Linked DNA regions of Homo sapiens. The protein of the gene in region 1 interacts with the protein of each later gene in a biochemical or structural test. Each region holds a gene or a part of one and is shown in the gene's direction. Other genes may lie near its edges.

Region 1 (3,580 bases):
TTCTGAGAGGCACATGAGAGCTTAGACTGGCAGAAAAGGGGGGTCGTGTCCACTTTCATGTCTGCCCTTTTGGCTCACTGCAGATAGTTCCCTGTGATCCCAGATGAGGGCCAGAATCAGTTCTAAGCCTAGGCCTTTGGGAAAACTTAGTTTGGGAGTCTTTGTCCTTAAAAGCCTATCTGAGTTCAAACCCTTGTTTTTCTGCTTTAAAGCCATGAGATCTTGGGCAAGTCACAGCCTTGATTTCTTCATCCGTAAAAGTGGTAATAGTTCCTCTGTTTATCACCTGATTTAATTTTGGTAAAGCACTTTATGAGCTGACACAGTAAATGTGTATCTTTGTGGTTAAGAATTTATACCCTCCAAATTATGCGTCTGGTGCCTTGGTTGAAAGTATTCTCACTTCATGGTTGCTGTATTACAGGTACGGTATTCTCACCAAAATCATTTCTCTTTGTAATTATGATACTGATTTTAATGCCGCACATTTGCATACTATATGCTTGTTACAGTGATCCCCACAGTAACTCATGAAGCAGCCACTCATTGTACAAATGAACGTCTCCATATAATAGTTTAGCTATTATACAGTACATGGCAGAAACACAATTCAAACTCAAGTTTATACGAATACTTTCAAGTCTCCTTACCTGAGAGCAGAAAGTGACATTTAAATTTAAAGGAGTTCCCAGCCTTTGTTTTCAGTGCAGTTTGTTTCATGGTGTAGGCAGAAGTCAGGGCTGTGTGATTGTGTGGCTGGGCTCTCTGGATTTGGCTCTTTGGGTTGCAGGAGTCATGGCTCATACGCTACATGAGGCACCAGCTCATGTAGGCACTGTCAGTTCCTATGTGCCCCACAGGAAAGCGCCCTTAACCACTGATGAGTGTTGATGTTTTTCTGCACTAGAAGGCACTATGTTGAACTATTAAACTTACCAGCACTTTCTTTTTCCACTCCATAGTTTCATTGTACTGACAACCTCAGCTGGCATCATGGACCATGAAGAAGCAAGACGAAAACACACAGGAGGGAAAATCCTGGGATTCTTTTTCTAGGGATGTAATACATATATTTACAAATAAAATGCCTCATGGACTCTGGTGCTTCCACTTGGTCGTTTTGAGCCTTTACAGCAGTGTAGCCACAGCTTCTGCGGCAGCATGCAGTTGCTTCGTTTATCGGTGAATGCGATTCCCTGAAGTGACTAATACAGCCAAGGGAAAAAGTTCTTATGAAACCAGTATGCCTAAGAAACAGTCACCCCTGCTGTCTGCCAAAACCAGGTATTTGACACTAAATATTTTAGTTGTATTTCAGTTTTTTTTTTTTTTTTTCTTTTTTGGAGACAGAGTCTGACTCTATTGCTCAGGCTGGAGTGCAGTGGCGCGATCTTGGCCCACTGCAACCTCCACCTCCCGGGTTCAAGTGATTGTCCTGTCTCAGCCGCCTGAGTAACTGGGATTACAAGTGTGTGTCGCCACATCCGGCTAATTTTTATATTTTAGTAGAGACAGGGTTTCGCCATGTTGCCCAGGCTGGTCTTGAGTTCTGGGCCTCAAGTGATCAGCCTACCTCGGCCTCCCGAAGTGCTGGGATTACAGCCACGAGCCATTACACCTGGCCTATATTTCAGTATTTTCTATTAGTTTTTGATGAATTTGTTTTGCCTGGCTAGGATTATTCTGTAGATAGGATTTTAGATCTGGCTTTTGTCACTGACTGCTGTAATAAATACTTGCTAGGAATTTTTTTTTTTTTTTTTTTTTTTTTAAGACAAAGTCGCTCTGTCACACAGGCTGGAGTGCAGTGGCATGATCTTGGCTCACTGCACCTCCGCTTCCCAGATTCAAGTAGTTCTCGTGCCTCAGCCTCCTGAGTAGCTGGGATTACAGGTGTGTGCCACCATGTCTGGCTGATTTTTGTATTTTTAGTAGAGGTGGGGTTTCACCATGTTGGCCAGGCTGGTCTCGAACTCCTGATCTCAAGTGATCTGCCTGCCTTGGTCTCCCAAAGTGCTGGGATTACAGGTGTGACCACCACGCCCTGCCTTAAGAATTGTTCCAAGAGAATCTGGTGCCACTTGCAGGTGCCCATTGAAGTGCAATGGGCACTGTTGATCACTGAGGAGGTAGTGGGTGCTGACCCGGTGCTGGGGCCTGTCCCCTAGTCTCTGCTTTGCCCTTGGCTAGCTAGGTGGTGTGCCAAGTGGGGAGAGAAGCTACCTTATTAAGGGGCATGGATCAGCTTCCTGAAAGGAGGGCCTGCCTCTGTAAGATATGGGAAGTCGCTGAGAATGTTACAGAACGGCCCTAGAGATGGGGCAGATAACGGCCCCCATTTGTGAGAAGTGAGTTGGGAGGCATGTTTGGGGCCTCTGATGTTTGGGAGGCTGTGGGTAATTAACATGAGTTTTGGGGTCCAGCAGCAGAATTCAGGTTTCCTCTTCCACTCAGTAACCTCAGCATCCGTATCTGTAATGGGAATGATACAAAACCTATCCCCAAGTTGAGGGAAAAATGAGATTGTGTAAAGCGCACTTGGCACATGACAGTCACAAGCATGGGGACAGTGAGTCCAGAAGGATTTTCTTATGCCAGCATTGTAAGCCCTAGGATCACAGGGCTCTGGCTTGTTTAACCATCGTGTCTCTGGTCCCTAGCCTGCAAACCTGGTGTGTAGGGATGCCTCAGTCGCTTACATGTTGATTGAGTGAATCGTCGGTTTCTTTCTGGACACTGACTTCAAAAATAAAATAGGATATGAAAATGGCTCCATTTGTTGTCACCATTTTGTGGGGATCCTATGTCCTTTGAAGTGGTCAGGAGTGGGAGAAACGTGACAGGGGAAGAAGGAGTGGTGTGGCTGATGGATTTAACATGTGTTCTTTTATGTTGGCAAGGAAGCGGATGACCTTACCCCTTGTTCCTCAGATCCTGTAAATGGCTTTATAACATGACCCAGGGCTGCTTGGTGTGGGACTAGACCCCAGGGTTTGAGGGTCTGAAGACAATTTAGGTTCGTGCTGGCAGGATGTCTTGGCTCAGAGACAAGTATTTCTGTGGGGTGATCCCAGCATCCTCCCAGCATACTGCTGCTGTTGCTAGGCAGAGACCCCGGAGTGGGGAGAGGGTGATAGCATCTGGATCATCCATTCCTACCTAGGTGGTTTTGGCTCATAGTAAAAGGGACCCAGCACCTATCCGCTGCTCAGCCTCGGAGCTGCAGGTGTCAGGGATATGATGCACTGTCCAAAAAGACATGCAAAACTTAACACCCCTGCATTTTCATGGAGAGACCCCGTGGAGCCTCTGACCAGAGGCTGAAAGAAATGTGTCATTCAAAAGACCAGGGAACCACTGCCAAGGACCCCTACATTCAGCAACACATCTATACTCGTGCCTGCCACGTGTCCTCACTTAGAGGCTATTGTCTCACCTCAGGGTCAGGAGTGCCAGGTGAAAGAGCACACAGGTCTCTGGGCAAGGCAGAGTTTGAAGCTAGGTCTGGACCAACGTCTGAGAGGATGACTTCACCCCAGGCGAGGAAGTTCACTTTGAGCTCCTGGCCAGGGAGAAAGCA
Region 2 (3,810 bases), on another chromosome or scaffold:
CCCTTTGTTAGAGCGCAAGAGCCCAGGCAGCACCGTGGCAGCTGGGAAGGCTGTGGTTCTGGCGAGGCGGTTGCCTTGCCCAGTGTACCTGGAATTGCAGCTCCAGAGCACGGGCCCTGGCTCCTGCGCGGCAGCGTCTCACCTTCCCTTTTCTTGTCAGGGTTTTTAGGCAGCCTGTACCTGCGTGCACCCATCCCTCTCTCTGTGCGGGGCCATTCAGCTCATGCTGCAGGTTTTTGCCGGGCCGGCCGGCGTTCCAGGGACCAGAGCCACCCCCAGAGCTCTGTGATGAGTCAGCTCAGGGCAGGTTTCTAGTCACTCCCCAAGGGCAGGGCTGAGGCGGGGTCTTCCAGAGTCAAGGGTTAGAGGGGCTGTTCCTTGAACGGCCCTTGAGTCCTCCTCAGAGTGCCTCCCACTGGGCCAGAGGGGCTGTCCCACACGGTCAGTCCCCACACGCTGCTCGTGAGCCCGGTGCCTCTATGCAGATCGCTCCGTGGCAGCTGCATCCTGGGCTCCTGAAGACTCAGGCAAGGGCACGGCTTCTCCTCATCCTCCTCCTCTTCATCTCCACCATCCATCTGCCCTGTGCCTTGCAGTCCAGCTCAGATACAGGCGCTGTGGCAGCCAGGAGCACCCTGGATACCACCGGGTCCCAGGACCCAGATCGCAGGAGCCACCTCATGCCCTGCGGCCTTGTCTTTCACCCTTTGGGCTTGTTCACTGCCAGTAGCAACAGGTGGCCCCAGAGGGTTCCACCGAGTGTGAGGGGGAGTGGATGGCACCTGCAGCATGTTCCCCCACAGGGAGGCCTGGGCTCTGTCTTGGGGGGGTCCTGTCTCGGTTTTGTGGGGAATGAGGGTATGAGCACCTCGTCTAGCCTTGCCTCAGCCACTGGCTGGGGTTCTGTGAGGTTCAGTTTAATGGGGACTTGCCCGTCTCCTGACACCTTTGAGCTGTGGACTGAGCGGGCCAGAAGGAGTGGCAGTGTGTGAGCCGCCCGTGCAGCAGGTGGCCTAGGATGTGAAGCAGACAGGGCACAGAGGAAGAAGCCTGTCTGCCTAGAGCGGGAAGCCGAGGTCGCAGCCGCCTCTGCCCTTCTGAGTGTGCACCCTTCTGTAGCCTCAGCTCGGCTGGCCGGCGATTGTATGAAGTCGTTTTTACTGTCAGCTCTGGCTTGGTATTCCTGGTGCCCACTCGGACTTCAGGCCCTGTGTGAGGAGCTCGGGCTCGGCGGATGACCTGCCTCAGGTGTGGCCCCTGCTGCCGTCACTTTGTCACTAATCAGACGTGTTTGGTGACCTTCCCCTCCCCATAGCCACTGGGGCTGTAGTGCTGGTGCTGCTGGGATCTGGGTTTGGGGCGAGGCCCAGGACAGTAGCAGCTCCCGACACCCTTGCTTGAGGCCCAGCATCTGCACTCCCAGCCCGGCCCTCCTCCAAGCTGGCATTTCTGCTGCACCCACGGGACGCTCCTGTGCTTCCGCAGCACCGGCGAGAGCTGTGGTGTGCTGGCCTTGTCGTAGGTAAGTTTAGAAACCGGAGCAGCTCGAGCGGACTTCACACTGTCCCCACCACAGGGTGGGGTGCGCCCACCTGCCCTGTCCATGTGGCCTTGGGCCTGCGGGGGAGAGGGAATCAGGACCCACAGGGCGAGCCCCCTCCGTAGCCCGCGGCACCGACTGGATCTCAGTGAACACCCGTCAGCCCATCCAGAGGCTAGAAGGGGGAGCAGGCGTGAACCTGTGCCGGAGCACTTCAGCAAGGGCGCCTTGGGCCCGGAAAGCGGCGGGAGCTGGGGGTCGTGGGGCCGCCGCCAGCAGTTCCAGGCGGCCTCTGCTCCAGCTGCAGCATTCCAAGCCCTCTCCTCCTGCAGGAGCAGCGTGTTTGGTTCCTGTTGTCCTGGTGCCATGGCAATGGGGCTGGGGAGCTCCCTGGGGCCAGAGCCGGGAAGGATCACTGTGCTGTGTTCCTGACCTGGCCTGCGCCCAGGCCTCGTTTTCTTCATTCCAACACAACACAGGTCACTGTTCGGGTCAGTTTCCACTGGTCTTAGATTCATTTTTCTTTTGAAACAATTTCAAAACTACAGAAAAGCTGCAAAATCAGCCCCTCCCCTTTGTGGTCGGGAGGGAGAGGTTGGGATGCTATGGAGGAAAGTAGGTCAACCCAGGCACACCAGGAAGCTGTGGGAGGGGATTAAATCCTGCGGGAGCCCTGGGCCTTGGAGGTTTCACACCGGCTCCTGAAGTGAAGTCTGAAATGCAGAGCGCAGCGACTGCCTTTCTCCAGGCAGGGCTTGCTTCTGCTTTGTTTTTCATTAGACATGGTGGATTTGTTGGACAAGCCAGGAAGGTCTGCATGAATTAAAAGAGATACTGGGAGATGTGTTCTGGGGAGAATGCAGCCGAGGCTGAACCGTCTCGGGAAATCAGTTAAGGCCGAGGAAATGGGGGTGCCCTTGAGTCCACTCTGTTTCAGAGCAAACTGGAGTCAGAGACGCAGCACCCAGTGCCCTCTCCACCTGTCCCCACCTGCACGGCCCTGCAGGCTCATCCCACCCCTGCCCCTGTCCCCCCAGCAAATGAGCCTCCTTTCCCCGCCCACCGGGCAGGTGGCTGGGCTCCGCGTGGACCAAGCACAGGGGCACCTGTGGAGTTCACTTTTGGAGGCTCCCTGAGAGGGCCGCTTTGTGGGGTCCAGGGATGAAGCCTCTGGTCACCGAGCACATTGTCGGGCCTGGCAGGGGGCAGGGAGCACGTACGTCGCTGGGCCTGACGTGACCACACAGGATCTTGGGGATGTCCCCCTAAGGGCCTCTGTCCTGTTCGTGGCCCCCTTCATGAGCCGTCGGGCATTCCTGCATGGCTTCACTGCAATGACTGCCCTGACAGTCATTCGGGGCATGAGTGGGGAGGAGGCCTCCTTGTTGGGACACCTGCTTTCCGGGGCAGGCTGGGGTGAGTGGCCAGGCCATCACTGCGGGGGGACGCTGCTGAGAGAGCCTCCTGAGGCCGGGCCGAGGCATGCTGCAGGTGCCCCTGGTGCTGTCCAGAGCCGGGAGTCTGAGAGGCTGGCACAGGCCAGACCAGTTGCAGTGACTGTGGCAGCTCTGCAGTCAGGACCCGCCCCAGCCCATTCTCAGGTCATGGGAGTGCCACCTGGACACGTTTTGCTCACTCCCGTGTTCTCTTTCCTCAGGTGCAGAGGCCAAGACCGTTTTGCCCAAGAAGGAGAAAATGAAGCTGAGGCGTGAGCAATGGTTGCAGAGTAAGTCCATGCCTGCGTCTTGAGGCAGCTGCCGGCCCAAGTCCCATCCCGTGGGCCCTCCTATTCCTACAGCCTCACATCTGGCCTTCTACATCAGCCACACTCCCCGAGGAGTGCCCAAGGGGATCACCCAAGACACTTCAGAGGCTGCTGTGGGGGCCGAAGGACAGTGGAGGCACAGAGAGGTTGGCCATGAAGACTTGGCAGCATGGCCAAGCTGGTCTGGCCTGTTGTGGATGGCACTGCCACCCCGTCCGTGTGGGCACCTGCAGAGCTGGGCTGCCTCCCTTTGGAGGACGGCCTTGGGAAGCTGCTGCTCTCGGCTCCTTGTTTGTAAAAATTACCTATTTTTGTTCCCCACCGTGAAATTTTTTATTGTGGAAGTAACCTGTGCTCGTGGAGTTTTTATGGTTCAGAAGTGCCTGCAGTGGTATGTGAAATCCTTCCAGGCCTTGCCCGCGGTGAAAACAGTGTCTGCGCATAGCGGCGTGGGTGTGGGCAGGGCCCCTGGTGTCCCCAGACCCTTTCAGGCCTGTGGCTCCCT

Evidence for each region.
Region 2: the proteins of RPS15A (region 1) and SLX9 are reported together in a solved structure, tested with the Homo sapiens proteins (one study listed by BioGRID).

The regions. Positions count from the first base shown.
Region 1 is NC_000016.10:18,780,485-18,784,064, reverse strand, and holds the end of RPS15A (small ribosomal subunit protein uS8), read left to right. Parts: intron 1-962; coding exon 963-1,056; 3' UTR 1,057-2,770; downstream 2,771-3,580.
Region 2 is NC_000021.9:44,956,903-44,960,712, forward strand, and holds part of SLX9 (ribosome biogenesis protein SLX9 homolog), read left to right. Parts: intron 1-1,795; exon of another isoform or gene 1,796-2,031; intron 2,032-3,197; coding exon 3,198-3,266; intron 3,267-3,810. UniProt on the Homo sapiens protein: May be involved in ribosome biogenesis.